Regions from separate parts of the Homo sapiens genome. Here region 1 is linked to region 2. Evidence: fine-mapped expression QTL. Tissue or cell type: whole blood. Region 2 holds a variant in brackets; the other region holds the start of a gene. All regions are shown on one strand. Distances are between the middles of the regions. Region 1 holds the start of ZNF558 (zinc finger protein 558). Region 2 overlaps MUC16 (mucin 16, cell surface associated).

The links. PIP is the estimated chance that this variant, and not a neighbour inherited with it, causes the effect.
Region 1: ZNF558 starts here. The variant in region 2 is fine-mapped to the expression of ZNF558 in whole blood (TOPMed, PIP above 0.99).

The regions. Positions count from the first base shown.
Region 1 is chr19:8,826,399-8,842,543 of GRCh38, reverse strand. ZNF558 (zinc finger protein 558) reads left to right here and starts at 10,240. Exons shown (of 10, transcript NM_144693.3): 1 at 10,240-10,335; 2 at 11,143-11,226. It overlaps MBD3L1 (methyl-CpG binding domain protein 3 like 1), which reads right to left and starts at 10,167. Exons shown (of 3, transcript NM_001393532.1): 1 at 10,022-10,167; 2 at 1,545-1,629. RefSeq lists silencers at 9,431-9,690, 10,191-10,460.
Region 2 is chr19:8,846,336-8,862,480 of GRCh38, reverse strand. It overlaps MUC16 (mucin 16, cell surface associated), which reads left to right. Exons shown (of 94, transcript NM_001414686.1): 88 at 1,333-1,481; 89 at 3,730-3,881; 90 at 4,210-4,277; 91 at 6,341-6,507; 92 at 10,762-10,803; 93 at 11,126-11,205; 94 at 13,451-13,637. The coding sequence ends at 13,549. Among named protein-coding and RNA genes, the nearest start is that of MBD3L1, 22 kb to the right of the region's middle. The variant A/G (reference allele first, on the strand shown) is at 8,199.

The sequences.
Region 1 (16,145 bases), 20 kb after region 2:
TCTGACCTGCTTCCTGGGACATCATCAGGCAGATTTGAGTCAAGCACAGAAAGTTCAAGGTCAAAATCTCCTTCATCATCCTGCAAACCCCCTCCTTGTTTGAGTACTATTTTATTCTCTTTCTGCCCTTGTCACTCTTAAATGCTCAAGTCCTGATACTCCCTCTCATGACAAATATGACAGTCTTTTTCTAAATCTCAAATCTTGCCTTTTTTTTTTTTTTTTGTCCCACTCCGTCACTCAGGCTGGAGTGCAGTGGTGCAATCACAGCTCACTGCAGCCTTTACCTCCCCAGGCTCAAGTGATCCACCCACCTGAACCTCCCGCGTAGCTGGGACTACAGGCGTGCATCACCATGCCTGGCTGTTTGTGGTTTTTGTAGAGACGAGGTTTCACCATATTGTCCAGGCTGGTCTGGAACTCCTGAACTCAAGTGATCCACCCCCCCTCGACCTCCCAAAGTGCTGGGATTACAGGCATGGGCGACCGTGCCCAGCCCAAATCCTGCCATTCTTATGCATTACTTGACTATTCATCTGTTTAACACATTGACCTCTTGGTTTGCACAGTTCCTGCAGCTTGTAAGTCAATAATGAAATTATCAACTGCTCTGCTCTTTGAGCCTTAATCCCACACCCCAGACATTTTCAGCAACCCAAACAGCCATGCTCAAAAATAAATAATTCTGACCCAGCACAGTGGCTTACATCTGTAATCCCAGCACTTTGGGAGGCCAAGGCAGGCGAATCGCTTGAGGTCAGGAGTTCAAGACCAGCCTGGCCAACATGGCGAAACCCCATCTCTACAAAAAATACAAAAATTAGCTAGGCATGGTGGCGGGCACCTGTAATCCCAGCTACTCGGGAGGCTGAGGCAGGAGAATAGCTTGAACCCGGGAGCTGGAGGTGGCAGTGAGCCGAGATCGCACCACTGCACTCCAGTCTGGGCAACAGAGCGAGACTGTCTCAAAACAAATAAATAAATAAATCGGAAAACTTATTCACCCACTATAAATTTCTGATTTCCAGGTTTTTTAATTCAAATGCCCATACCATAGATACCTGTTCTTGATGAACATACCTTGAGGAGCAAGTATCTGTGATTTGGGTATTTGAATTACTCCGGACCTCCGTATCTTCACCTTCCTCTCTCTCCTCTGATTCCTAGCACTCTTGGATTCTGTGGTCTGCGACCTCAATATTTCCCTTAGAGGCCGGGCACGGTGGCTCCACGCCTGTAATCTCAGCACTTTGGGAGGCCGAGGTGGGTGGATCACTTGAGGCCAGGAGTTCAAGACCAGGCTGGCCAACATGGTGAAACCCCATCTCTACCAAAAAAAAAAAAAAAGAATTAGCTGGGTGTGGTGGCGCACACCTGTAGTCCCAGCTACTCGGAAGGCTGAGGTGGGAGAATCACTTGAACCCAGGAGGTGGAGGTTGCAGTGAGCAGAGATCACATCATTGCACTCCAGCCTGAGCAACAGAATGAGACCCTGTCTAAAAAAAAAAAAAAAAATTCATTTAGATTAATCCAAAATTCCTTACCACTTATCACACCTGCCTTGTAAAACTTCAAACTTGGAAGGTCCCTGTTCTCTGTGACGCCATGGCTACCACCGTCATATGATCACTGCTGAAAAAAGAATCACGTGACATGACGTCTTAGTGCCACTATAAATACAAAATATTCTCCATCAACTGGGAAGAATCCATCATGCGTAGAAACTTTATTTTCTGTGTATGCACTGTCATGTTTACTCCTTGATTTTCCCCAAAACCTGTTGCAAAATTTTCTCCAGCTTTCTTTTTTCCTCATAGATATTTAATTCTCCTTAACTTACCTGATGGTTCCCAAAGACGTTAGTTGCCAAATCTGCAAATATCCCTGATAAGCATTGAATGTTTCCAAATTTCCTTTAATTGTATTTAAAGAGATTTCCTGCCAGGCATGGTGGCTCACACATCTAATCCCAGCACTTTGGTAGGCTGAGGCGGGAGGGCCACTTGAACACAGGAGTTTGAGACCAGTCAGGGCAACGTAGGGGGACCCCCATCTCTACTAAAAATTAAAAAGTTAGCTGGGGGTGATGATACATGTCTGAGGTCCCAGCTGAGTGAGGGAGGCCGAGTGAAGAGGATAGCTTGAGCCCAGGAGGTCGAGGTTGCAGTGAGCGGCAATCAGGCCACTGTACTCTAGCCTTGGCAACAGAGCAAGACCTTGTCTCATAAATACATAAATATGTTTCCTTTATCCACCAAGAGTGATCTGAGCCTCATTCCTTCTTCCTTTTTGTTAATTTTATGCTTCCAATATTGCAATGTAACCTTTGTATCATCTGTTTTTGTTTTTTTTTTTTTTTTGAGACGGAGTCCCGCTCTATAGCCCAGACTGGAGTACAGTGGGATGATCTGGGCTCACTGCAACCTCCACTGCCCGGGTTCAAGCAATTATCTTGCCTCAGCCTCCCAAGTAGCTGGGATTACAGGCACATACCTCTATGTCCAGCTAATTTTTTGGTATTTTTAGTAGCGATGGGGTTTCGCCATGTTGGCCAGAGTGGCCTCGAACTCCTGACCTCATGATCTGCCCGCCTCAACCTCCCAAAGTGCTGGGATTACAGATGCCCCCATATCTTTAACTTCTGTTTTTCTACTGAATCCCTTCTTCGGCATTTAAACATGTTCAAGTTTCTCCGAGCTACACAGACACTCCTCTCCTAAACTTCCTGGGACCCCCTCCTTCACCACTACTGCCTATCCCTTCCCCTTAGCTATGAACCACTGAGAAAAGATCATCTACATCTATGTCTCCTATCTCCTCACCTCCAGCAACTCCTCAGGCCACCCCAAACTTCTGTTTTCCTTCACCGTTCTCAGCTGCTTCTGTTGCTAAGGCCACAATGACCCCTTTGTTGTTAGATCCCAAAGGAATTCTCATTATTCATCTGACATGACTCTTGAAGTGGAAAGCTTTGAAGTATGCTTGGAACAACCTGGACATGTGAATCTTACTTTACAGCTGTGAACCCTAGAAAATCTAAATATGGCCAGGCACGGTGGCTCACACCTGTAATCCCAGCACTTTGGGAGGCCGAGGCGGGCAGATCATGAGGTCAGGAGATTGAGACCATCCTAGCTAACACAGTGAAACCCCATCTCTACTAAAAATACAAAATATTAGCCATAATATTAATACAGGTGGGTGTGGTGGCACACACCTGTATCCCAGCTACTCAGGAGGCTGAGGCAGGAGAATGGCGTGAACCTGGGAGGCGGAGCTTGCAGTGAGCCGAGATGGCGCCACTGCACTCCAGCCTGGGCGACAGTGCGAGACTCTGTCTCAAAAAAAAAAAAAAAAAGAAAAGAAAAGAAAAAAAAGAAAATCTAAATACGGGGCAAGTACATCTGATAACATTCAACTCGCAAATTGAGATGTGCCATCAGTGGAAAGTACGAACTGGATTTCTGGAACTCATTACAAAAAACAAAAATCATTTAAAAGGTCTCATGTGGAGTCCTAATAAGATAAGTAACCAACAACAAGGAAAGGGCCCCTGGTTGGGGGAGAACAATTGTTCTGAGAGATGGCTAACTGCAAACAACCCACTGGCATGACATTCTGTTCCAAAAGACCTCGGTCTGCACATAGTCCCAGGAACACGACCTTATCTGCACACCTCACGTGCACATAGCCGCCTCCAGCACGACCCTATAAAATCCCCTCCAACCTCTGCCTCTTTGCAAATGGCCCCTTCTCTTCTGTGCTGCCTGTTGCATCCTTGCAACCTATCTTCATATCTTCTCTAATAAATCTGTCTTTCTTTACCTACGACTGTCTTGGGAAATTATTTTACCACCAACAATGCCAGCCCCAGCCAGTCGCACCTAAAACGTCTCAATAATTTTTACATTGATTGCATGCACACATGAGAATATGTTGGCCATCGCAGGTTAAAATAGACTTTTAGAATTCATTGTGTGTGGCATGCCATCTGTGGCTGAGGTGCTATATTGGTGCTTATCTAGGAGTTATCACCAGACAGCCTGTGTTCTGTGCATGCTTGGTTGTTTGCAGAGTTGCATAGCCTTCAAAACATTTACTATCTCAATATATCCATGTCCTCGGGAGAGGGTTAGGCAATATGCAGTTTGTTTCCATGGGACATCTCCATCCTTAGCAATTCCTTTGGGGATTATTTGACATCTGTCATTTCCACAGGTGGCCTTGCCCTGGAGGAAGGTGATAGTGGGGCTGCTGATCTTTTTTTTTTTTTTTTTTTTTTTTTTTTTTTGAGATGGAGTCTTGCTCTGTCGTCCAGGCTGGAGTGCAGTGCAGTGATGCGATCTCGGCTCACTGCAACCTCTGCCTCCTGGGTTCAAGCGATTCTCCTGCCTCAGCCTCCTGAGTAGCTGGGACTACAGGTGTGCACCACCACGCCCAGCTTATTTTTTGTATTTTTAGTAGAGACGGGGTTTCACCATGTTATCCAGGATGGTCTCAATCTCTTGATGTCATGATCCGCCCGCCTCGGCCTCCCAAAGTGCTGGGATTACAGGCGTGAGCCACCGTGCCTGGCCAGGGCTGCTGATCTTCTGGGTAGAATTTCAGCCTTGCTGTCTCCTGTGTATAAGGAACTCTGCCTGCTCCATCTTGGTCCCTTCCAGTTGTTTCACTTCAAGTTTCTTTACCTCCTTCTCTTCCTTACTAACCAAAATATGGAATGAAATATTTAGTAGCAATTATTTTATGCGTCATCTGGTTAGGTGGAAGCTACTAGTTGTTTTTACTCTAGCAGAATTAAGGTAGCCGGAAGTGACTATCAGAGTATAAAGTATCCTCAGATCTCAGGTACTCTGTGGGAAAGCAAGAACTTGTCTTGTCCATGAGGCCAGTGTGAAGGGTGAGGGTCTTTATCCCTGTCACAAGGCTTGAGGCAAAACTTTGCACTCTGCCTTCTGCCCTCCAGCCAGAGAAGTTTCTAGCCACCCCCATTCGAGGCAGAAAGGGTCCAGGCATTAAGTGGTTGTCGAGCCCTGGAATTTTATATTCCTAGACTTTGTGGGTTACAACATGGATACACACTGCCGACTTCATTCTGCAGCCAGCTTCTCACATCTAACAATATATCCCGATTGTAATTTAATATAACTAAATGTACATTGACATTGTTGTTTTAAGGCCCATGAATGTCATTTCATACGGCTACACCAGTACTTATTTTGCCATTGTTACTAATCTTCTGTCATATTAAATAGGAGGTAGATGATCAATCCTTTTTAACAAGGTTCAAACATTTCTCTGATTTAGATCACTGTAAAATTGCTGGGTTGATAAATATGCACATTCGTACAGCTTTGGGTATATGTTACCAAGTACCTGCTGAGAAACTGGTACTTATCAATGCTGCTAGCAGAGGGCGAGGTCATTCATTTCTTCATGTCTTGACAAACTGGCCATTTAAAATGTTTTGCATTACTTGAGAGGCACAAACATAATGCCATTATTTTAATTTATGCCTCTTTGCTAATTAGAGTATTGGGCAGTTGTATGTATTTGTAAAGGAGTGTGTGGTTCATAGCCTTTGTCTTTGATGATGTTTTTACTGGCTTGTTCATCTTTTGCTTATTTATCCAAAATATTCTTTATGTAATAATGATATGAGCCCACATGTCATAGATTTTTACAATTATTTATCCCCAGTTTGTTTTGCCATTTAATAATGTGATGGTGTGGAAAATTAAGATACACTTAAGCTGGATACGATGGGGTCATGCCTAAAATCCCAGCACTTTGGGCAGCCAAGGCAAAGGGATTGCTTGCGCTCAGGAGTTCGAGACTAGCCTCTGTGGTGTGGCGAGTCCCTGTCTCTATAAAAAATACAAAAACTAGCTGGGCGTGGTGGTGCACGCCTGCAGTCCCAGCTACTCGGGAAGCTGAGGAGGGAGAATGACTTGAGCCCAGGAGGTCGAGGCTGCAATGAGCCATGTTTGCACCACTGCACTCCAGCCTGGGTGACAAAGCAAGATCCTGTCTCCAAAAAAAAAGAAAAAAGAAGAAAGAAGGAGGAGGAGAGGGGGGGAGGAGGAGGAAAAGGAAGAGAAGAAGGAGGAGGAGGAAAGAAGAAAGAAGAAGGAGGAGGACAAGGAGGAGGAGGAAGGGGAGGAGTAAGGAAGAAGGAAGAAAGGAGGAGGAGGAAGAGGAAGAAGAGAAGAACTCACATTTTTGTAGTATTTTACTTTTTCCACTTTTCTTCTATTATTTTGAGGAAGAAGCACTCATATTTATGTAGTATTTTATTTTTCCACTTTTATTCTCTTATTATGCCTAACTGAAGAATTTATGTGTATAATTCTACATTTTTTAAATAAAAACTTTATTGAGCTACCATAATATTCAACCTTTTAAAGTGTACAGTTTTTACACTTTTGTGTAAAATGGTTTTTAGTACATTCACACAGTTGCGCAATCGTCACCACTATCTAATCTTATTTTCATCTAAAATGAAATCCATACCATTACCCACTTCCCCTCATTTCCCTTTTCCCCAACATTTGCCACTAATCTATTGTCTCTTTGGATTTTCTTATTCTGGAAATTTTATTTAAATTGAATTATACAAAATGTGGGTTTTTTATGAGTGGCTTCTTTTACTTACCGTAATGTTTTCAAGGTTCATCCATGGAATATGTATTCTGTTTAATGGATGAATAATAATCCGTTGTGTGGATATACCACATTTTATTTATCCATTCATCAGTTGACTGATATTTGGGACATACAAAATTTTGGGCTATTATGTATAATGCTGCTATGAACATTCATGTACAAGCTGTCATGTGAACACATGTTTTCATTTCTCTTGGGCATATACTGGAAATAAAATTGCTGGGTCACGTGGCAACTCTATGACTTTTTGAGGAACTGCCAAACTATTTTGCAAAGTGGGTGCACCATTTTACAATCCTGACAGCAATGTATAAGAATTCCAATTTCTCCTTGTCTTTGCCAATCTTTGTTATTGGCTATCTTTTTAATTTTAATTATCCCAATGGGTGTGAAGTAGTATTTTATTGAAGTTTTGATATTAACTTCCCTAATGATTAATGGGGCCGAGCATCTTTTCATGTATATATTTGCCATTTGTGTATCTTCTTTGTAGAAATGACGATTCGAACTCTTTGTTCATTTTTCAGGCTGGGTGCAGTGGCTCACACCTGTAATCCCAGCACTTAGGGAGGCCAAGGTGGGCAGATCACTTGAGGTCAGGAGTTCAAGACCAGCCTGGCCAACATGGCAAAACCCTCTCTCTGCTAAAAATACAAAAATTAGCCAGGCGTGGTGGTGAACGCCTGTGGTCCCAGCTACTTGGGAGGCTGAGGCAGGAGAATCGCTTGAATCCAGGAGGCAGAGGATGCAGTGAGCCAAAATGGTGCCACAGCACTCCAGCCTAGGTGACAGAAGGAGACTCCACCTCAAAAAGAAAAAAAAAAAAAAACTCTTTGTTCACTTTTAATTGGGTATCTTTTTATTGCTGAGTCGCAAGCCTTTATATATTTTGAATACAAGTCATGTATCAGATAAATCATTTGTAAATGTCTTCACCCAGTCCATGTTTGTCTTTTTTCTTGATGGTGTCCTTTGAAGCATCAATGTTTTTTAATGTTAAGTCCAATTTATATATTTTTTCTTTCGCCACCTGTTTTTGATGTCATATCTAAGAAACAATTGCCTAACCCAAGATCACAAAGTTTGACACCTATGTTTTCTTCCAAGAAGTTTATAGTTTTAGCTCTTACCTTTAGGTCTATGATCTATTTTGAGCTCACTTTTGTACATGGTGTGAAGTAGAGGTCCAATTTCATTCTCTGTTTTTTGTTTGTTTCTTGGTTGGTTGGTTTTTTTTTTGTTTTTTTTTGGTTTTGGTTTGTTTTTTTTTTTTGATGGAGTCTCGCTCTGTTCTCAGGCTGGAGTGCAGTGGGGTGATCTCGGCTCACTGCAATCTCCACCTCCTGGGTTCAAACGATTCTTCTGCCTCAGTCTCCCGAGTAGCTGGGACTATAGGCGCCCGCCACCACGCCCAGCTAATTTTGGTATTTTTAGTAGAGACGGGGTTTCACCATGTTAGCCAGGATGGTCTCGATATCTTGACCTCGTGATCTGCCTGCCTCAGCCTCCCAAAGTGCTGGGGTTACAGGCGTGAGCCACCACGCCCAGCCCAATTTCATTCTTTTGTATATTGGCATCTAGTTGTCCCAGCACAATTTGTTGAAGAGAACAGTCTTTCCACAGTGAACTTTCCTAGTATATTGAATTTTGAACTTGTTCATTTTTGCTTAAACTTCCTTCAGCCACCTGAAAATGGATATTTTTGGGAAGCAGAGATCTAACTATTTTTTTCTGAAAGGACGGGTGCATGAAACAATATCATTCATTGAAAGTATTTCTTCCTGGCTGATTTTAAATGTTACCACTCTCTTACATAAAATTTTTTCCCTTTGCACTTACCAGTATCTTTTTTTGTTTATGGTTTTTGGTTTTTGTTTTGTTTTGTTTTTTGAGATGGAGTCTTGCTCGTCACCCGGGCTGGAGTGCACCGGCTGCAATCTCGGCTCACTTCAACCTCCACCTCCCGAGTTCAAGCTATTCTCCTGCCTCAGCCTCCCAAGTACCTGGGATTACAAGGCATCCGCCACCACGCCCGGCTAATTTTGTATTTTTAGTAGAGACGGGGTTTCACCATGTTGGCAGGCTGGTCTCGAACTCCTGACCTCAGGTGATCTGCCTGCCTCGGCCTCCCAAAGTGTTGGGATTACAAGCGTAAGCCACCAGGTCCAACCAGCACTTAGTGGTATCTAACGCACCAACCCACCATGTATTCTATTTATCACATTCACTGTCCATTTCTCCTGCCCAACTCACAACTAAAATGCACGTTCTCTGAGGGCAAGGACGTTTACCTATTTTGTTCAGTCTATATCCATGGTGTATAAAACAGAGACTTGTTGGGGGGGAGGTAATAGCATTTATTCCATGAATATGACTACGGCATACACACATACACACACATACATGTCCACACTATATCTGGAAAGATAGAGGAGAAAATTATTTTTGCCTCTGAGCAAAAGAACTGAAAGACCGTGGTGGGAGAATATTTGACTGACTTTGTACCATTCTTAAGTTTTCCTATATGTGTATCTATGACCCAGTCCTCTCCTGCTCCCCTAAACTCTTAGTGTTAAATCACTATGTTCTGCCTTGGGAAAGCAAGTTATAGACAAATGTGCATACATAATCTGATCCTATTGGGTTGTATGAACATGGGGCAGTAACTGTATCAACAATCTAGGGATCCAAGGAAGGCCCTACCCCTGAATCTGATCTCCCACAATCCTGGCTCCTGGGCCTATCCCAACCCACCCACATCATACACCCTTTTATTCATACCCAGATCCCTGCCCCTGGAACTGGTCTCCACCCACTGCCCCCTCCCCAGGCCTGGTGCAGCCCACAGTCCCGCCCCCAGAACTGGTCTCCGCCCACAGTCAGCCCCGCCCCCAGGCTTGCTGCCACCCCATAGCTCCGCCCCTAGAACTGCTCTCTGCCAATCACCACTGCCCTCCAAGACCGGTACACCCACAGCCTAGTCCCCGCCCTCCGCCCGGCCCGGAGCTTATCTCCGCCCACAGCCAGCCCCAACCTCCAGGGCTGTCACAACCACAGCCTGGTTCCCGCTCAGCCCCGCCCCGGAAATGGAGGTCTCCACCCCTGTAACTGGTCTCTGCTCAGTCATCCCCGCTCTAGAAGCCTTATACCATCCGCCCCGAGAACTGGGCCCCACCCACAGCCCCGACCCTGGAACTGGTCTCTGCCCAATCAGCCTCGCCCTCCAGGCCTGGTACGGCCTCAGCCGGTTCCCCGCCTTCAGCCCCGCCCCGGAACTGATCTCCGCCCACAACCAGCCCCGCCCCCAGGCCTCGTGCGGCTCACAGCCTGGCCCCGCCCCCAGGGCCAACCTTACCCCCGCTACTGCCCCAGGCCAGGGCCCAACTTTGTGCCCACTAAGCAAACTAGAACACCTCTGCCCAAGGCTGGGGTTCGCGGCCGCCGCTCCCGCCCGCCGCGCCTGTCGCCTAAGCGCCGAACCCCCAACACGCTCGACTCTGCGAGGCTGCCCGCGCGAGCCGGAAGGGGACGTGCAGCGCACCTCTCCCCAGACCGGAAGCGGAAGCGCGGGGCGGTACCGTGGGAGGGGCCGCGCGTGGGGCAGCGGGGAGCGAGTCCCTCCGTCCCCGCGAGTCGGCGCTTTTGGCCCCGCGGGAGGGGCCGGGCTCGGTGAGCGACTGGCGGGGGCTCGGGTCCGAGTCCAGGGGGCGACGTGGGCCGCGGACACCGCCAGCCACGGGCCCTGCGTCCCTCCAGGGAGCCGTGTTTCGGTTCATGAGGCCTCGGGCTGTGAGCTTAGGTCAGCACGAAGCTGCTGCTTGCTCCTGGGTCGGGGCCCCGCGCCGCTGTTGCCTCCTCAGGGAACCCCAGTCGCCCTCACCCGGGGCGATTCCGCACCCCAGGGGACTTTTGGCTGTAGCTGGAGACGACTGTGGTTTTCACAAATTGTGGGGAGGGGAGGCTGCTACTGTCACCTAGAGGGTGGAGGCCGGGGAAGAGGGACGCTGCTTGCTCTTAAAGATCCTACGTTGTACAGGACAGTCCCCCACAACAAAGAATTATCAGTAGTGCCAGGTTGGGAAACCCTGCTCTAGGGCCTTAAAAAAAAAATCTCTGCAGTTCTGAATAAACTACATAAATTGTTAAAAATTCAGTTTAGTCACTTAATAGGGCCTCTAAGTGACAAGATATTTTTAAAGCCTGTGGAGTCACCATAGAATCTCTCTCCAGCGTAGTAAGTTGAGCAAGTCAAATGCACACAGCGTTAAGCTGCTTTCTCCCCTCTTACGGAGCAGATGGCCAGATGGGAATCAGGTAAAGCCAGTCATGGCCCACAGGCTGGGCCCTTATTACACATTTAATCATTGAGTACCCAAAAAAAGTGAATGGGATGGTGTTTCCGGCAGCCGTATCCAACAACTGTACAACCTATACAAAGCCTCGAAAGAAATCTTTGTGTCTTTTTTTTTTTTTCAGATGAGAAAAGCATCATTCAAGCTCAGATTCGTGTTGAAGCCTGCCACAAGGTCCACCTGTTGTTGTGGGTTTTTGGGTGACCAGGTGAGTACAGTGTGGAACCTACAACAAGGTTTCAGCAGGCTCTGCTGTGTAGAAGAACTCCTCGTGGGCTTTTCCTGTGCTGGGGTTGTAACCACATTGAAGTCACTAAGAGTGAAGGTATCTTAAGGAAAGTTCAAGGTAAAAAGACAGAGGTGTTTATGGTTACATGTGTGTAAATAAGTAAATACAGTTACATGCAAATAAGTATCCACAAAACAAACATACAAATAACGTAAAGATGTGTAACTGTAGCTAAAGACAGATTTTCTGGTATGCCGTAATGCTAAAAGTTTCTGAATTTTATATAAGTATAGAAAATATTTACATGTATATGTAGTGTTACAAGTCTTCCCACTAACAACTAGCAGGACTACTTAGCAACATTTTTCAGGCCTGTTTGATTTGACTTTTTTTTTTTTTCTTGAGACCAAGTCTCACTCTGTTGGCCAGGTTGGAGTGCAGTGGCGCGATCTTGGCTCATGTCAACCTCCACCTCCCAGACTCAAGCAAATCTCCTGCCTCAGTTTCCTGAGTAGCTGGGACTACAGGCAAGTGCCACCACGCCCAGCTAATTTTGTTTGTATTTTTAGTAGAGACAGGTTTTTGCCATGTTGGCCAGGCTGGTCTTTAACTCCTGACCTCAAGTGGTCCGCCCACCTCAGCCTCCCAAAGTGCTGGGATTACAGGCAAGAGCCACCGCACCCAGCTGTTGATTTGATTTCTAAAGGCATATTGGCCCTCCACCAAACTTCAAAATATAAGGGCATTTGTAAAAAGGATGATTTATTAGTAACAAATTTAAAATTAAATTGACCGGCGACCAGATGTGTTTTGAGTAATGGGATTTTTTTTTTCCTAATGAGATTTGAAAACATTTGGAAGAATATTAAGCAACAACTTATAGATTGAAGGGTAGGGAACTGGTTTCCAAAAAGATTGTCCTCTGCACCTTGCCTCCTGTATTAGTCCTTTTTCACACTGCTATAAAGAACTACCTGAGAGTTTTCACACTGCTATAAATAACTCCCTGAGACTGAGTGACTTACAAAGGAAAGAAGTTTAATTGACTCAGTTCTGCATGGCGGGGGAGGCCTCAGGAAACTTACGATCATGGCAGAAAGCAAAGGGAAAGCAAGGCACGTCTTACATGGCAGCAGGAGAGAGAGAGAAGACATAAACGCCAAACTTCTAAACCATCAGATCTTGTGGGAACTTACTATCAGGAGAACAGCAAGGGGGAAGTCCGCCCCCATGATTCAGTCACCTCCTACCAGGACCCTCCTCTGACACATAGGGATTATTACAACTCGAGATGAGATTTGGGTGGGGGGACACAGAGCCAACGATATCACCTCCTAATAGGAATTAACTTTGTTTCTTAAAACTTCTCTGAAATAACAGTATGGTGATTCATATTGCAGAGAATCATGTTAAGTAATCTAGTATTAAATTGTGGGGTTTCTACTAATTGTGTGTGTGTTCACCTTTTCCATTCTAGCTTTCCTACAGCATTCTTGAAGGAATGTTTACTTATCATGCAATAGATATTATTTGAGTGCACAGTTAATGGTGACCAACCATCCTCATTTTTTCAGGACCAAGGGGTTTGCTAGGGCACAGGGCATCCAGTGTTCAAACCGGGACAATCCTTGGCAAACCAGGTCGCCTCCATGAGTCAGGTCCTAGGTCAGATGCACAGGGACCCTGGAGGACCTGAAATGGCCCCTGTCCTACATAAAGTTTACCTTCTAACAGGGAAGATAAATTTTAAACCATGAATGACAGGAGTGATGTGGGAGCTTGGCACTAGTGAACTTGATCAGAGGGAACAGGGAAGCTTTCTTGGGAAGGATATTTAGCTTGAGAGCTTAAGTTGTTACAGAACCAAACTGGGGTCTGCTCACCTGGTGGTGCAGTGAAACCAGATGTCTATATTGAGGGTTGCTACGATAGATAGAAAGGCTTTTATTGCACAGCACTAAGCAAGGAGGACCAGACATTAAATGTTCAAATCCTGGCCTCCCCAGTGGCTTTTAGGCAAGGAATTTTTTTTTTTTTGAGATGGAGTCTCACTCTGTTACCCAGGCTGGAGTACTGTGTTGCAATCTCAGCTCACTGCAACCCCCGGCCTCCCGGGTTCAAGCAGTTCTGCCGCAGCCTCCTGAGTAGCTGGGATTACAGGCGCCTACCACCATGCCCGGTTAATTTTTGTATTTTCAGTAGAGACGGGGTTTCACCATGTTGGCCCGGCTGGTCTTAATCTCCTGACTTCGTGATCCACCCGCCTCAGCCTCCCAAAGTGCTGAGATGATACAGGCATGAGCCACCACACCCGGCCTTTTTTTTTTTTTTAATGAGACAGAATCTCACTTGGTCACCCAGGCTGGAGTGCAATGGCACGATCTCAGCTCACTGCAACGTCTGCCTCCCAGGTTCAAGTGATTTTCCTGCCTCAGCCTCCCCAGTCCCTAGGATTACAGGCACATACCACCACACCTGGCAAATTTTTTGTATTTTGAGTAGAGACAGAGTTTCACCATGTTAGCCAGGTTGGCCTCAAACTCCTGACCTCAGGTGATCCGCCTGCCTAGGCCTCCCAAAGTGCTGGGATTACAGACATGAGCCACCGTGCCCGGCTAGGCAAGGATTTCTGAAGGCAATGGTAAGTTACAGAAAAGCAGAAGCTACAGGCAAAATCATAAAGCAATACATGGAGGTTACACACTGGTTTAGACTTAAAAGGGCAAGGATGTCTTGAAGCAGGAGCTTGTCATAGGTAGATTCAAAGATTTTTCTGATTTGTAATTGGTTAAAGAAAAGAAGCTTTGTTTAAAAATTTAGAGTCAGTAGGAAAATGTTAACTGGCTGGGAGAAGTGACTTTCTCCAAGCCCCTCAAGAAGAAACTTAGCACAAAGAACGCTGAAGCTCAGCCTTCATGTCCCGCTTATCTGGGGTCTCTGAGCCAGCAGCTCCATTTGGTGGGGTCCTCAGTGGGAGTCCCAGCCTCTGAAAGGCAACTCAGGGACGCATGTTAAGATGTTATCTTTAGTTTCCATGGGGAAAGCGAACATCTCTGGAGCCTTAACTTCTTTGGCTGTTGTTTTAGGTTACTATTACCTTCCTGTTTAACAAGTTCCATATTTACTTTTGGGGCTAGCTGGATGCTCGGAATTTCCCTTAAAGGAACTTCAGGATTTTCCTTTATTTTCCCACTTGGGGTTCACAGGCCCCTGAAAAAGGGAATTGCTGCTCCATCTCCAAGTTGGGGTCAGATGTAGCTAGTCATAGGGCTCGACTAGAGTGAGGGGACAGGGTTATGTCCAAGAGAGCACTGCCGTCGAAGAAGCTGTGTAAGGAAAGGCCCTGCAGCAGGAGAGAGGCTGCCACGCTCCCTGCACTGGGAACACAGGGATGGCTGAAGCCGAGACAAGAACAGGGAAAGAAGCTGGGCGCAGTGGCTCACACCTGTAATCCCAGCACTTTAGGAGACCAAGGTGGGCTGATCACCTGATGTCAGAAGTTCAAGACCAGCCTGGCCAACATGGTGAAACCCCGTCTCTACTAAAAATACGAAAATTAGCTGGGTGTGGTGGTGCACACCTGTAGTCCCAGCTGCTCGGGAGGCTGAGACAAGAGAATTGCTTGAACCTGGGAGGCTGAGGTTGCAGTGAGCAGAGATTGCACCACTGCATTCAGCCTGGGTGTAAGAGTGAGACTCCTCAAAAAAAAAAAAAAAAAAAAAAAAGAATAGGGAAAGAAGTGTGACCAAGACCAAGATCAAGAGGGAGGCAGAACCATACTAGGCCTCACTTCAGACTCTGTTCTCAGGCCAGTGGGAAGACACTAAAGAGTTGTGGGCCAGAGGGTGATGCAATTTGCATGTAGTGTAAGCATGCAGATAACAAGGACTTCAGGATTCAGAAGGAAGACATTTAAGAGGCAAAAGAGGGGGTGTTTGGAGGTAGTTTAGGAATCAGATGATTGCTCCCAAAAAAAATAAAATTTATTTTCTCAGCCATACTAGTCACATTTCAAGTATTAGAGCAGAATTATAGAACATTTCCATCATCACCAGAAGTTGTGTTGGGCAGCTGACATAGAGTGGCCCATCTGCTGTGACCATCCTCCAGCACTGTATCCAGGGCAGGGCAGGTGTCACAGGATCTGTAAACTGAAGAGACCCCTCCTGTCCTAGTGGGAAATTTCTGCTTCCAGACAGCCTTGAATAGGGACTTGGGGCCTGAAAATGTCCCAGGTACCTTCTCTACTTGTTTTTTTCTTGGAGGCCCAGTGAGCTGGCTGGAGGCCAACCCCCCCTCACTCCCCAGCTCAGTGACTGGAACTACTGTGTGCCTACCTGCACATTAGGTCTGTTACGGGGAAAAAGGAGATACTTCCCCCTGTAGAGGGTAGGGAAGTTCTGCAGCAGTTGCCTGGGTCTGCTGAACTCACCCAAAGGGAAGGTGTGATGTGAAAGGCATGTTAGTTTCCTATTGATGCTATAACAAACTACCACAAATTCAGGGACTTAAAACAACACACATTTATCCTCTTGCCTTGCTGGAGGTCAGAAATCCTCAATAAGCTGGAAGGCCTGCATTCCCTCTAGAGCAGGAGTCCCCAGCCCCTGGGCCACGGACCAGTGCTTATAAACAGGGCTGCACAGCAAGATGTGAGTGGCAGGTGAGCGAAGCTTCATCTGTATTTACAGCCACTCCTCATTGCTCGCATTACCACCTGAGCTCCACCTCCTGGCCGATCAGTGGCAGCATTCGATTCTCATAGGAGCCCAAACCCTATTGTGAACTTTGCATGTGAGGGATCTGGATTGCACACTCCTTAGGAGAATCTAATTCCTGATGATCTGTTGCTGTCTCCCATCACCCCCAGATGGGACCATCTAGTTGCAGGAAAACAA
Region 2 (16,145 bases):
GTCAAAGTTGGGATTTGAACCCAGGTCTCTGATGACTGGATGAAGGAATGAAGATACCTATACTTGGGAAGAGGAGGGTCACAGGACACAGGGCTGACTTTGTATATTTCTAAACTTCAAAGATTTTTGTATTTCAGCTGGGAATATGGAGAAGGTTAATTGGAACAAAAAAATGCAAAGAATGAATAAGACCTAGTATTTGCTAGCACAACAGGGTGACTGTAGTCAAAAATAACTTCACTGTACATTTTAAAATATAACTAAAGGTGTATGCTTGGATTGTTTGCAACACAAAGGATATATGCTTGAGGGGATGGATACCCCATTTACCCTGATGATTATTATGCATTACATGCTTGTATCAAAACATCTCATATACCCCATAAATATAAAAACACCTACTATGTACCCCAAAAAATTAAAAACAAATAAAATCAAAAGTAGGCTGGGCACAGTGGCTCATGCCTGTAATCCCAGCACTTTGGGAGGCCAGGGCAGGTGGATCTCTTGAGCCCAGAAGTTCAAGACCAGCGAGGGCAACATAGGGAGTCCTAGTCTCTACAAAAAATACAAAAATTAGCCAGGCATGGTGGCACACACCTGTAGTCCCAGCCACTCAGGAAGCTGAGGTGGGAGGATCGCCTGAGCCTAGGAGGCTGTACTCCAGCCTGGGTGACAGAGCGAGACTCTATCTCAAAAAATAAAATAAAATAATAAAAAGTAGAAATCAAGAGGGAAAATGTGGGAGAAATTGGGATAATTTTAACAATACCTTCCACCAGAGTGATGATGAAGAATGCATAAGTCACTTCTTAGTGGTCTTGATCTATAAAAAGTGTTCAATAAATATCGATTATTGTTACTGTTATTGCTTCTAGACGTAATTCCTGGAAGCATTTTTTTTTTTTTTTTTTTTGAGATGGAGTCATGCTCTGTTGCTCAGGCTGGAGTGCAGTGGTATGATCTCGGCTCACTACAACTGCCTCCTGGGTTCAAGCAATTCTCCTGCCTCAGCCCCCCATGTAGCAGGGACTACAGGCATGCGCCACCACACCCGGTGAAGTTTTGTATTTTTATTAGAGACAGGGTTTTGCCATGTTGGTCAGGCTGGTCTCGAACTCCTGACCTCAGGCAATTTGCCTGCCTCGGCCTCCCAAAGTGCTGAGATTACAGGCTTGGGCCACTGCATCCAGCCGAAGGCCTCCCATTTTGATCAGAACCCTTCTCTAGACTGAGGGTGGGTGCCTCTAGATCTTTTGCTCTTTAAAGACAGCAACCGATGACCCTGCTGATGCTGAGTACTGGCTGAATTCCTGTGGTCTCTGTCCCTAGGATGGACTCCGTGTTGGTCACTGTCAAGGCATTGTTCTCCTCCAATTTGGACCCCAGCCTGGTGGAGCAAGTCTTTCTAGATAAGACCCTGAATGCCTCATTCCATTGGCTGGGCTCCACCTACCAGTTGGTGGACATCCATGTGACAGGTACAAGGTGGGGTGGCTGGTTTCCTAACTGGAAGAGGTGGGGTTATGAGGAAAGATGGGGCTTCTCGGTACCAGTGGAATTGGTGGAGGCTCTAGAGAGGGAAAGGGAGGCTTTCTGGAGACCCATGTAGGTGACCTCTGGCAGTAGATCATCCAACGAGGCAGGAACAGAACACCAGCCATTGCATCTAAGAGAATAGCTATTTTTACATGTAAAAAGAATTGTGTTGAATGAATGAATCAATAGATCATTTATTTTGAATCAATTTATTGATTCATTCATTTAATTAATGAATAATAAATGATTCAGTACATAATTGATTAATTGATGTAATTGAGAATTGATTTAATTGATTAATTGATCAATTAAAATGATCAATTAAATGAATGAATCAGTAAATGAATAATTCATTCATTCAATAAACAATGGAAGTAGGCCGGGCATGGTGGCTCACGCCTGTAATACCAGTACTTTGGGAGGCCCAGGCAGGCAGATCACGAGGTCAGGAGATTGAGACCATCCTGGCTAACACGGTGAAACCCTGTCTCTACTAAAAATACAAAAAAAATTAGCCAGGCATGGTGGTGGCCACCTGTAGTCGCAGCTACTCGGGAGGCTGAGGCAGGAGAATGGCGTGAACCCGGGAGGCAGAGCTTGCAGTGAGCCGAGATCGCGCCACTGCACTCCAGCCTGGGCGACAGATGGAGACTCTGTCTCAAAAATAAATAAATAAATAAAAATAAAAAATAAATAAACAATGGAAGTAAACACGTACTGATAACACAGTGTGATCATTGCTATGATAAGGGAATTTCAGGGGCCTGTGGGAGCCCCAAGGAGGAACACACAACCTTGTCTTGGAAAGTTTTATGTAGGAAGGGGTGAAGAAGCTGAGATCTGACAGAGAATGGGACCTAGCCAGGGGTAATAGATGGAGAATTGTGCTCCATGCATCTATAACCTAGAAGATAGAAAGAATATGGCATCTGGCCGGGTGCGGTGGCTCACGCCTGTAGTCCCAGCACTTTCAGAGGCTGAGATGGGTGGATCACCTGAGGTCAGGAGTTCAAGACCAGCCTGACCAATATGATGAAACCCCATCTCTGCTAAAAATACAAAAATTAGCCAGGCATGGTGGTGCGTGCCTGTAATCCCAGCCACTTGGGAGGCTGAGAGAGGAGAACTGCTTGAACTCGGGAGGCGGAGGTTGCAGTGAGCCGAGATTGTGCCATTGCACTCAAGCCTGGGCAAAAAGAGCAAAACTGCATTTCAAAAAAAAAAAAAGTGGCATTTTGGGGCAAGTTTAAGAAGATTGGTGTAGCTGGAGCATCCACTTTGATACTGGAGAGGTGACAGTTGAAGCCAAAGATGTGGGCAGAGACTTTGTTGGGCACTGGAATGGCTTGGGGAGGAACATGACACACTCATGAGTTCTGCTTTAGAAAGAAAATGAAATGAATTCTGCTCATCCTCTGGGTGCTGTGTGCAGAATGGAGGGTGGGGGGAGAGAAGAGCAAAGGCAAGAAGACCCTTTAGGAACAATGATCATTAGTTAGAAGACTCTGGGTTTCTCAGCACCTGCAATTGCTGACTACACCCCCAGAGAAACCCAGTCTCTTTTCCCCCATGTTGTAGAGAATTCTTACAATGCTTGGTAGAAAGAGAATTGAACAGGTAGATGGGTGGATGGATACAAGCTGGACAGATGGATGGAGGAAGATCCTCCATCCAATATAGAGCTGTTACCTAAAACCCTCCATCCCACCTTTAAAATCCTAGCTCAGCCAGGCGCGGTGGCTCACACCTGTAATCCCAGCACTTTGGGAGGCCAAGGCGGGTGGATCACCTGAGGTCGGGGGTTCGAGACCAGTCTGACCAACATGGAGAAACCCTGTCTCTATTAAAAATACAAAAAAAAAAAAAAGTTAGCCAGGCAGGGTGGCGCATGCCTGTAATCCCGCTACTCGGGAGGCTGAGGCAGGAGAATGGCTTGCACCCAGGAGGTGGAGGTTGTGGTGAGCCAAGATCACGCCATTACACTCCAGCCTGGGCAAAGAGAGTGAAACTGTCTCAAAAAACAAAACAAATGACCCCCCTGCCAAAAAAAAAAAAAAAAAAAAAGAAAAGAAAAAAAGAAAAGCCTAGCTCAGCTCACACTGTCAGGAATAAGTAAGCTAGCTGGAATCATCTCTTTCTTAAAACCCTGCCTTGATAGTGGATTTTTACATACTTTTTTTTTAATTCTAGAAATGGAGTCATCAGTTTATCAACCAACAAGCAGCTCCAGCACCCAGCACTTCTACCTGAATTTCACCATCACCAACCTACCATATTCCCAGGACAAAGCCCAGCCAGGCACCACCAATTACCAGAGGAACAAAAGGAATATTGAGGATGCGGTGAGAAGGGGGTGGTATGTCCACTCTGTTGCCATGCAGAAACTGACTTATGCATACTGGGTAGCCACAGGGTGACTTTTTATAACAATCCACAAAGACAGGTTCTTATTCCCATTTAATACACAAGCACAGAGAGGTTCAGTAGCTGACCCAAGGTCACACAGCTAAGTCATACCCTAGAAGAGCATGTCCTTTGATATACATACCTGGGCAAGTGGTTGTCATGACAAGAAGCAAAATAGACGGAGAAGTGTGCTCAGTGGCTGAAAATTCTCTGATGCTACTGGGGCCAGGATTCTGACCTAAGAAACATCGCCCTGTCTTTCAGCTCAACCAACTCTTCCGAAACAGCAGCATCAAGAGTTATTTTTCTGACTGTCAAGTTTCAACATTCAGGTAAGTTCTAACTCAGGACCTAATGACTCTAGGAACTTCTGCTGTCCTTTAAATAGAAGTGTCCCCAAGCCATAGCTTTGATGGAAGAGAGCCCTAGAAATAGAGAGCTGTTAACTAAAAACTAGCTTTTTCCTAAAGCTGGAGCCCAACTGGCTTCAACACTCAAGAGAGCTGGTGTAAATCTCAGCAGACATAAAGGTACCTGGTGCTGAGGCCATGGAGTCTAGAGTGTAGAATCTACTACATTAAGACATCAGCTACTGAAATCAGGACCCATGGAAGACGGGGGAAGGAGGGGACTAAAACCAGATTACTTAGAATCTAGCAGCCTAACTGTGCTTTTCAATGAGAGGTATCATTTCCAATGGTGGGGGGTACCAATGATTTTTTTTTTTTGACAACTGCCTTGAGAACAGGCTTTCCTCACTAAACAAATTCTGAATCAGAACAAATAAAGATAAGCCCTGAGAATAGGGCTTTTTCAAGGAGCTGCCAAACAGATCAAATAGTGACTATGTTCTGCAGATTGATGTCTGGAGAACTCTACAGCTATTTTGACTGCTAGGCAGCTGGTTTTCACAGATATCATGATTCTGAGGCTGCCAGTTTTCAAAGTTACCGAGGATCTTGCTGGATGCAGTGGCTTGCGACTGTAATCCCAGCCCTTTGGGAGGCCAAGGTGGGTAGATCGCTTGAGCTCAGGAGTTTGAGACCAGCCTGGGCAATATGGTGAAAACCCATCTCTACAAAAAATACAAAAATCAGCTGAGCATAGTGGCATGTGCTGTAGTCCCAGTTACTTAGGAGGCTGAGGTGGGAGGATGGCTTGAGCCCAGGAGGCAGAGGTTGCAGTGAGCTGACATTGTGCCATGCACTCTAGCCTGGGCAACAGAGCCAAAGCCTGTCTCAAAAAAAAAAAAACAAATAATAATAATAATAAAATACTGAGGATCTTGAAAGAGCACTGTGGAAATAATGCAAGTTAAAATGCCACAAAGCTTGCTCTTTTTACTGAGATTTAACACTTTCCTTAACTAAACACCCCTCGAATTTTTGCAAGCCTTTGGTTCACTTCTAGACTTCTGGAAAAATTGATTTGGACTATTTTGGCCAATGTTCTCATTGATTTTATGGGTATTCAGAAGTTGTTACCCCAACATTCCAGAAATGTTCTCCCTGTGGCTATTACTTTATTTATTTATTTATTTATTTATTTATTTATTTATTTGAGACGGAGTCTCCCTCTGTTGCCCAGGCTGGAGTGCAGTGGCGCAATCTCAGCTCACTGCAACCTCCGCTTCCCAGGTTCAAGCGATTCTCCTGCCTCAGCCTCCCAAGTAGCTGGGATTATGGATGTGCACCACCACACCGGCTAATTTTTGTGTTTTTAGTAGAGATGGGGTTTCACTGTGTTGGCCAGGCTGGTCTCGAACTCCTGATCTCAAGTGATCCACCCGCCTTGGCCTCCCAAAGTGCTGGGATAACAGGCATGAGCCACTGTGCCTGACCTCCCTGTGGCTATTTTTAAATGAATTAAGTGGAATAAAATTAGAAATTCAGTTCTTCTCCCACGCTAGCTGCATTTTAAGCATTTAATAACAACATGAAGCTACTAATGGCTGCATTGTGTAGTGCAGATGTAGAATTTTTTTTTTGTTTTTTGTTTTGTTTTTGAGATGGAGTCTCGCTCTGTCACCAGGCTAGAGTGCAGTGGCGTGATCTCGTCTCACTGCAATCTCTACTCCCCGATTCAAGTGATTCTCCTGCCTCAGCCTCCCAAGTAGCTGGGATTACAGGCACGTGCCACCACACCCAGCTAATATTTGTATGGATGGTCTCAATCTCCTGACCTCGTGATTTGTATGGATGGTCTCGATCTGACCTCATGATCCGCCTGCCTGGGCCTCCCAAAGTGCTGGGATTACAGGCGTGAGCCACTGTGCCCGGCCGACATAGAATGTTTACATCATTGCAGAAAGTTTCTGCAGGAAGAGCCTAGAAGGAGAAAGCCTAGAATCATGATAAAATTGCAGATATCTTTGCTTATCCCTGTCCCCTTCCAGGTCTGTCCCCAACAGGCACCACACCGGGGTGGACTCCCTGTGTAACTTCTCGCCACTGGCTCGGAGAGTAGACAGAGTTGCCATCTATGAGGAATTTCTGCGGATGACCCGGAATGGTACCCAGCTGCAGAACTTCACCCTGGACAGGAGCAGTGTCCTTGTGGATGGTAAAGCTCCCTGGGTCATTGGGACTGAGGTGGAAGCTCCCACTTCCTCACCTGGGTCCTTCCCTGGGAATCTGAAGGCTTGGGGTTGATTCGTCATCGAGCTTTCTCAGACTGGGAGAAAGTGGCTTAGTTCTCCTAAGCTTTACCCATCATTGAAGGAAAGAAAAGGACGCCCGAGGGATATGGGAGGCATTTGCCCTCTTCTGGCCAGCTCTGTGACCTCAGGCTAGTCACATCTCCTTTCTGGACTTCTTATCTCTCTGTACTTAGCAAGCCACTTGGTTTTTGGTTCCCATCTTGCCTGCCCTAGATGGTATTGCTCCTCCACCCCCAGGCAGCTGCAGTGTTAAACAATTACCCTGATTAGTTATTGTTGTTGTGTTGTTTGTTTGTTTTTGAGACAGGGTCTCACTCTGTCACCTAGGCTGGAGTGCAGTGACATGATCTCAGCTCACTGCAACCTCAACCCCTGGACTCAAGCAATCCACCCACTTCAGCCTCCCAAGTAACTGGGACTACAGCCATGCGCCACCACACCCGGATAATTTTTGTATTTTTTCTAGAGATGGGGTTTTGCAACATTGCCCAGGCTGGTCTTGAACTCCTGAGCTCAAGCATGCCACCTGCTTCAGCCTCCCAAAGTGCTGGGATTACAGGCAGGCAGGCACCACTGCAGCTGGTTCTGGTTTTTTGTGTTTGTTTTTTTCTTTTAGAGGCAGGGTCTCGCTCTGTTAACCAGAATGGAGTACAGTGGTGCAATCATAGCTCACTGCAGTCTTGAACTCCTGGGCTCAAGCGATCCTCCCACCTCAGCCTCCTGAGTACCTGGAACTACAGGCACGTGTCACCACGCCTTGCTAATTTCTAAATTTTTTGTAGAGACAGGGTCTCACTATGTTGCCCAGACTGGTCTCTAATTCCTGGCCACAAGTGATCCTCCTGCCTCAGCAGGTCAATGAGGGCTTCCAGTTTCAAGTTGTATGTGATTCATCCTCAACAAATGTGGTAGGATGGACCTATTTTCCAACTCCAGAGATGGCTTCAAGGTGGCTCAACTTTGCATATCCAATTTTACCCATTCAAAGAATAGTTATATACATTGTACCATGTATCAGGAATATAACAGAGAGTAACTGTTTGCTCTTTCACCACTATATTCCAAGAACCCCATATTCTGCCTGGCACATAATAAACACTCAAGTCATATTTGCAGAAGGAATAACTAGATTTCATACAAGGTTCTTTTCAAGTCAAATGCGAATAACGTTTTAGACGGGACCTTCCAATGCCTGTGTGCACTGTCCTTGATTCCGAATTATTGTTGTGCAAGAGAGCACTGTTGATCCTTCAGAATCAACAAGCCTTTCACATGCCTGTCACAGGTTTTTCTTTTTCTTGTTTTACCAATTTTGTTTGTTGTTTGTTTGTTGTTATTGTTTTGTTTTGTTTTTGTTTTTTATTTGTTTTTATTTTTTCTTTTTTTTTGAGACAGAGTCTCGCTCTGTCACCCAGGCTGGAGTGCAGTGGCACGATCTCCGCCCACTGCAAGCTCCGCCTCCTGGGTTCATGCCATTTTCCTGCCTCAGCCTCCTGAGTAGCTGGGACTACAGGCGCCTGCCACCATGTCTGGCTAATTTTTTTTGTATTTTTAGTAGAAACAGGGTTTCACCATGTTGACCAGGATGGTCTCG[A/G]TCTCCTGACCTCGTGATCTGCCCACCTGGGCCTCCCAAAGTGCTGGGATTACAGGCGTGAGCCACCACACCCAGCCCCAATTTTTTTTTTAATTAAAATTGTTGTCAGCTCACAAGCTTTCTAAAAACAGGCCATGGACCCAGCATCGCTGTAGTTTGCCAAACCTTGCCTTGAATCAGTACCATCCAATAGAACTTTCTGCAGTGATAGAAAATGTTTCTATCTGTGCTATTCAGCACAAAGCCATGTGTGATTACTAAGCTTGAAGTGTGGTTAATGTAACTGAGATACCGAAGTTTTAATTTTATTTAATTTTAATTTAAAAAGCCACTTGTGGCTGCTCCATATTGCACACTACTTTTTAAAATTATTATTTGTATATATTTAAGGGGCACAAGTACAATTTTGTTGCATGGATTTATAGCCCAGTGGGGAAGTCTGGGCTTTTAGGGTATCTATTACCTGAATAATGTACATTGTACCCATTGAGTAATTTCTCATCATCCACTCTCCTCCACTCCCCAACCCTTCCAAGTTTCCACTGTCTATTATTCCACTCTCTATGTCCATGCCTATGCATTATTTAGCATTGACATGTCTATGCATTATTTAGTCAAATACATGTGCTATTTGACTTCCTGTATCTGAGTTGTTTGACTTAAGATAATGACCTTCACTTGCATCCATGTTGCTGCAAAAGACATGATTTCATTCTTTTTTATGCCTGGGTGGTATTGCATTGTGTGTGTGTGTGTGTGTGTGTGTGTAGAGAGAGAGAGAGATCACATTTTCTTTATACAGTCCTCCATTGATGGGCACTTAGGTTGATTCCATATCTTTGCTATTGTGAATAGTTTTGTGATAAACACACAGGTTCAGGTGTCTTTTTGACAAAATTATTTATTTTCCTTTGTGTAGATACCCAGTCGTGGGATTCCTGGATCAAATGGTAGTTTCATTTTTAGTTATTTGAGAAATCTCCACGTTTTTCATAGAGATTATACTAAATTACATTCCCACCAACAGTGTGTAACGGTTCACTTTTCTTGCATCCTTTTTAACATCTGTTATTTTTTGTCTTTTTAGTAACAGCCATTCTGACTGGCGTAAGGTGGTATCTCATCATGGTTTTAATCTGTATTTCTCTGATTATTAGTAATGTCGAGCATTTTTTCATATGCTTGTTAGCCATTGGTATGTCTTCTACATCTTTAAGAAGCTGGCTATGGGCTGGGCGCAGTGGCTCACACCTGTAATCCCAGCACTTTGGGAGGCCGAGGCAGGCGGATCACGAGGTCAGGAGTTAAAAACCAGCCTGGCCAACATGGTAAAACCCTGCCTCTACTAAAAATACAAAAAATTACCCAGGCATGGTGGTGCGCCTGTAATCCCAGCTACTCAGGAAGCTGAGGCAGGAGAATCACTTGAACCCAGGAGGCGGAGGTTGCAGTGAGACGAGATCACATCATTGCACTCCAGCCTGGGTGACAGAGTGAGACTCTATCTTGAGAAAAAAAAAAAGTTGGCTATAACAGGGTTGTAGAAGTAGAGGAACCAGTAACCCTTCTCGCCATGCCTGATGATGGCTTTACATCCCTGTCTTCATGGAGTTTATGCTGTCGTGAGGAATAACAAGAACAGGCAGTTGTCAATTATAAATTATTTGATGTGAACCTATTCATACATGGGTGTGGTCATCAGGGAAGGCTTCCTGGAGGAAATGACATTGAAGGTGAATTCTAAAAGATGACGATAAAACCACCAAGTGAAGGAGAGCTTAAATGTGTTTTTAGGCAGAAGAAAAACCTTTTGGGTGAAAATTTTAAAACTTAGAGAGGTCCCATCAGTTTCCAACTGCGATGATCCATTCTCTCCACCACTGCCCTTGGGCCCAGCCCAATTTAGGTCCACCATGCCCAGAGGCATGAATTTAACTTATGACACTCTTGTGGTGGAATAATGGCTTTGGGCTTATGTAGCCATGTGTCATTTTTTTAGAGATACAAATTGAAATATTTGGGGTGAGATGTCATGGTGTCTACTGGCCTCTAAAACTTCAGTGAAAACATTTACTTTCACTGAAATGTCAATAAATCATAAATTGGATGTATATGTTTTAGTTGGAGGAAATATAAACCACTAAATCTAGGTGATGCATATTTATTATACTCTTCTCTCTGCTTTTTTGTACGCTTGTAAAATTGTATTTAAAAGAATAAGACACACTTGGCCGGGCGCGGTGGCTCACGCCTGTAATCCCAGCACTTTGGGAGACCGAGGTGGGTGGATCATGAGGTCAGGAGTTCAAGACCAGCCTGGCCAACATGGTAAAACTCCATCACTACATACAAAAATTAGCCAGGCATTTTGGCGGGCACCTGTAATCTCAGCTACTTGGGAGGCTGAAGCAGGAGAATTGCTTGAACCCGGGAAGCAGAGGTTGCAGTGAGCCAAGATCACGCCACTGCACTCTAGCCTGGGCAACAGAGCAAGACTCCATCTCCAGAAAAAAAAAAAAAAAAAGACACACTCACATGCACCCTCCATTTCTTTCATTTCTAGGGTATTCTCCCAACAGAAATGAGCCCTTAACTGGGAATTCTGGTAAGTCTCAAAGAAGCCCCAGCCCAGGGTAGGGAGGGGGTAGCCTGATGGTGCTTTGCCTTGTCCAAGAGCACCAGGCACACAGAGTCTTGGATGAGGATCAAAATTGCCAACCCATGGCAAAGACTATTGAGGCATAGTAAAGGGATAGCAGGGATCCTGGCTTTCTGGGGGCCCAGTTTTTGGGGGCATCAGAGGCATGAGGTGTTGAGCCACTAAGCTCTCTTCCCCAGGGCTGTGCCCATCCTCAGGCCACATAGGGTCCAAGAAGGAGCCCTGGGACGTGGCAGGAGGTGGCTCACCCCAGCCCTTGTCTCCCCAGACCTTCCCTTCTGGGCTGTCATCCTCATCGGCTTGGCAGGACTCCTGGGAGTCATCACATGCCTGATCTGCGGTGTCCTGGTGAGCAAGGAAGGGTTGCTTGTCTTCTTAACAATTGGGTTGTAAGAGTTCTTAATATATTATAAAACCATACTATACTATACACAAGTCCTTTGCTGGATATATGTTTTGCAAATATTTTCTCCCAGTTCACGGAGTGGCTTTCCTATTTTCTTTTTATAATTTTATTTTTAATTAATTGACAAATAATGAATGCATATATTTAGGGGATACAATGTGATGCTTTGGTATATGTACAATTATGGAATGACTCAATCAAGCTAATTAATATGTCCCTCACCTCTCATACTTATTATTTCTTTGTGGTGTGAACATTGGCAACCTATACTCTTAGCAATTTTGAAATCTACATTATTATTAACTATAGTTACTATGTTATGCAGATCTCAAAAACTTCACAACCTATATGCTGATTACAAGATATTGAGAGAAAAAGTGATTGCAAAGAGTGTAAATAAAATAATGTAAGAGGGAAAAATGTAACAAAATTAGTCGTTAGGGAAATGTACACGGAAGTCACAATGAGAGGCCACTTTTCACAAGAATGGATAAAATTGAAAAGATTGACTATAACAAGTGTTGGTGAAAATGTGACAGAACTGGAACTCTCATAAAGTGAAAGTGGAAAATAGCTTGGCCATTTCTTTGAAAATTACACACACCTACCGTAAGACCCTACCATCCCACTACTAGTAATTTATCTAAGAGAAATAAAAACATATGTCTATATGAAGACTTGTACACAAGTAAATGTTCATAACAGCTTTGTTTGTAATAGCCAAACTCTGAAAACAACCCTAATGTCCATTAACAAATATATCCTGACAATGGAATATTATTCAGCAACAAAAAGGAATTATTAATACATTAATAAATTATACAGCAACATGTATAAATTGCAAAATAGTTATGCCTAGTGAAAGAATCCAGATGAAGAAAAGAGTACATGCCATATGATTCCCTTAATAGACAAATTCTAGAAAATACAAACTAATCTGTAAGGACAGGAATCAGATCAGCGGTTGCCTGGGAATGAAAATGTGTTTGCAGTGGCAGGGAAAAAGGAATTGTAAAAGAGCAGGAAGAAAGTTTTTTTGTTGTTTTTTTTTTGTTTTTTCTTGAGACAGAGTCTTAGTCTATCGCCCAAGCTGGAGTGCAATGGCACGATCTCAGCTCATTGCAACCTCTGCCTCTCGGGTTCAAGCGTTTTTCCTGCCCCAGCCTCCCAAGTAGCTGGGATTACACATGCGCACCACCACACTCAGCTAATTTTTGTATTTTTAGTAGAGACGGGGTTTTACCATGTTGGCCAGGCTGGTCTCGAACTCCTGACCTCAGGTGATCCACCCGCCTTGGCCTCCCAAAGTGCTGGGATTACAGGAGTGAGCCACCATGCCTGGCCAGGACGAAAGTTTTGGGGATGATGGATGGATGTTCCTTATGTTGATTGTGGTGACGATTCAATAAGTTATGATCAGAACTTATCAAAACATTCACTTTAAATGTGTGCAGTTTATTTTATGTCAGTTATGCCTCAGTTAAGCTGGACAGATGTAGAGGAGGAAGGGAGGGAGAGAGGGGGCTGAGATCAGGACCAAAAGCCAGAGAGAAAGAGACTGAGAATGAGATGAGAGAGAAATGGTATTTAGACAGAAGACAGGCGATAGATGATTGATAGTTGACAGATGATTGGTGGATAGCTGATAGGTAGATGATAAATAGATTATTTTGATAGATAATTGGTAGATAATAAATTGATAGGTAACAGATAGTTGATAGATATTGATAAGTAGATGATAAATACATGATTGATGGATGACAGGTGATTGATAGATGATTGATGGATTATAAATAGGAGATGATTGAGAGGTGAGAGATAATTGATGGTTATTGATTGGTAGATAATTGATTGACAGGTTGATAAATATTGATAGCTAGATGATAGATAAATAGATCATTGGTAGATATGTGATATATTGATAAAGAAATTCAGAGGCAAAAGGAGAGAGAAATGAAGGGGATATCGGAGGGGGAAAAATTTTTTTAAACCGAGAGTGAAACAAGGAGACAGAAGAAAAGAAAGTGGTGAAAAGAGGAAAAGAACTGAGGGAGAAATTAAATGAAACAATGAAGGGAGACAGAGGAAGCATAAGGCCTCTGGCTTTGGCCATATTCTCACCCCTGTGGTCTCCTCTCCCTGGACGGCTGACCAGTCCATTCTCACGCCTCCTCCTCACCCTCATAGGTGACCACCCGCCGGCGGAAGAAGGAAGGAGAATACAACGTCCAGCAACAGTGCCCAGGCTACTACCAGTCACACCTAGACCTGGAGGATCTGCAATGACTGGAACTTGCCGGTGCCTGGGGTGCCTTTCCCCCAGCCAGGGTCCAAAGAAGCTTGGCTGGGGCAGAAATAAACCATATTGGTCGGACACAGTCTCTGAGCCTTCCTTGACGTGACCCCTGACTGGTTCATGTTGGACTAAGAGAACAGTCTTCCACCTTCGTGAAGTCCCAAAGGCAACTCTCAGTTGTGTGTTGTGGTTTCGCACCATGTCATCCCTTGGGAACACCAGAATTGGTGAAAATGATTGTATTAGGCTGTTCTTGCACTGTGATAAAGAAATACCTGGCCGGGCGCAGTGGCTCACACCTATAATCCCAGCACTTTGGGAGGCCCAGGCGGGTGGATCACTTGAGGTCAGGAGTTCAAGACCGGAGCCTGGCCAACTTGGTGAAACCCTGTCTCTACTAAAAATACAATAATTAGCCAGGCATGGTGGTCCACGCCTGTAATGCCAGCTACTTGGGAGGCTGAGACAGGAGAATCACTTGAACCCAGGAAGCAGAGGTTGCAGTGAGCCAAGATCACGCCACTGCACTCCAGCCTGAGTGACAGAGCGAGACTCTGTCTCAAAAAAAGAACAAGAGAAAAAAAAAAAATACCTGGCCAGGCTCGGTGGCTCACGCCTGTAATCCTAGCACTATGGGAGGCCTAGGCAGGCAGGTTGCTTGAGTCCAAGAGCTCGAGACCAGCCTGGGAAACATGGCAAAATGCTGTCTCTACAAAGATTTTTAAAAATAGCCAGGCATGGTGGTGCGTGCCTGTAGTCCCAGCTACCCAGGAGGCAGAGGTGGGAGTATCACCTGAGCCTGGGAGGTTGAGGCTGCAGTGAACTGTGATTGTACCACTGCACTCCACCCTGAATGACAGAGTGAGATCCTGTCTCAAAAAAAAAAAAAAAAAAAAAAAAAAAAAAAACAAAGAAAAAAGAAATACCTGAGACTGGGTAATTTTTAAAGAAAAGAGGTTTAATTGGCTCACAGTTCTGCAGGCTGTACAGGAAGCATGATGTCAGCATCTGATCAGCTTCTGGAGAGGTCTCAGGAAGCTTCCAATCATGGTGAAGGCCAAGGGAGGGCCAGCATGTCACAAGAGAGGGCCAGCATGTCACATGGCCAGAGCAGGAGCAAGGGAGAGTTGGGGGGAGCAAAGGTGCCACACACTTAACCAGATCTCACAAGTACAGACTCCCTGTTGCAAAGGCAGCATCAAACCATGAAGGATCTGCCCCTATGACCCAAGCACCGCCTACCAGGCTCCACCTCCAACACTGGGGATTACAATTCAACATCAGATTTGGTGGGGACACATATCCAAACTACATTACTGATGATATGGACAGGAGACAGGGAAATACTGGGTAGAAGAGGGAGGTTCCCCAGCAAAGGCCCCACCCTCAAGCCTGGAGACCTGTGGCCCTAAATGGGAACAGACAATCCTGTTTTCATGCCCCAAAGTCACCTTTTGGCCCACCATGCTCCCCTATCCTATACCCATATAAACCTCAAACCCCAGGCTCCACAAGCAGAAGAATGGCAGAACGACACAGCAGAGAGAAGAGAAGGAGCATCTGAATGCCGAAAGGAGTTCAACTGGGGACAGTCAGAGAGGAGACTAGCCACTGGACAGCCAAACTCCAGGGGAAGATCATCTTCCCACTCCATCCCCCTTCTAGCTCCCCATCCATCCCACTGAGAACCACCTCCCCCATTCAACAAAACCCTGGCATTCATCCTTCAAGTCTATGTGTGACCTGATTCTTCCTGGATGCTGGACAAGGACTTGGGTACCAAGAGGGCACTGAGCTGGTTAACACTTGAGCCATCCACAGACAGCAAGGCTAAGGAGCACACTGTAACACACAGCCACTTGGGCTTTGGGAGTTGCAGTCTCCCACCTGTGGATGCTGCCATGGGGCCAGAGCCCAGGGACACTGGCCCCGGCTCCTGCACCTGCCTGTCTGTGTGCTCCCCGTCCCATAAGGGGTTTGAGTGCACCCAGCAGCCAAACAGATGAGCCACACCCCTGTCACATGTCCTGCAAGGGAGCTCAGGGAATCCTCCTGTTTCACTGATACAGAAATTGCCATCATGGAGGCTGGGCACGGTGGCTCACACCTGTAATCCCAGCACTTTGGGAGACCAAGACAGGTGGATCACCTGAAGTCAGGAGTTCAAGAACAGCCTGACCAACATAATGAAACCCAACTCCACTAAAAATACAAAAAAATTAGCTGGGTTTAGTGGTGGGTGCCTGTAATCCCAGCTACTCGGGAGGCTGAGGCAGGAGAATCACTTGAATCTGAGAGGTGGAGGTTGCAGTGAGCTAAGATCGCGCCATTGCACTCCAGCCTGGGCGACAGAGCAAGACTCCATCTCAAAAAAAGAAAAAAGAAATTGCCATGGTGGAAAATCAACATTCCACTTCAGTGTAAGGTCTCCCACCTTTGTCACTCAGTACACACCCACCCTTGACTCCTATACCAGCCATCACACCCATCCTGTTCCTTTATATTCCCACATCCCTGCCCCCAAGAAACCCTGGCAGTTGCAAGTTTCTCTTCCACTATTTCATTCTCTGAAACTCAAATGCACCA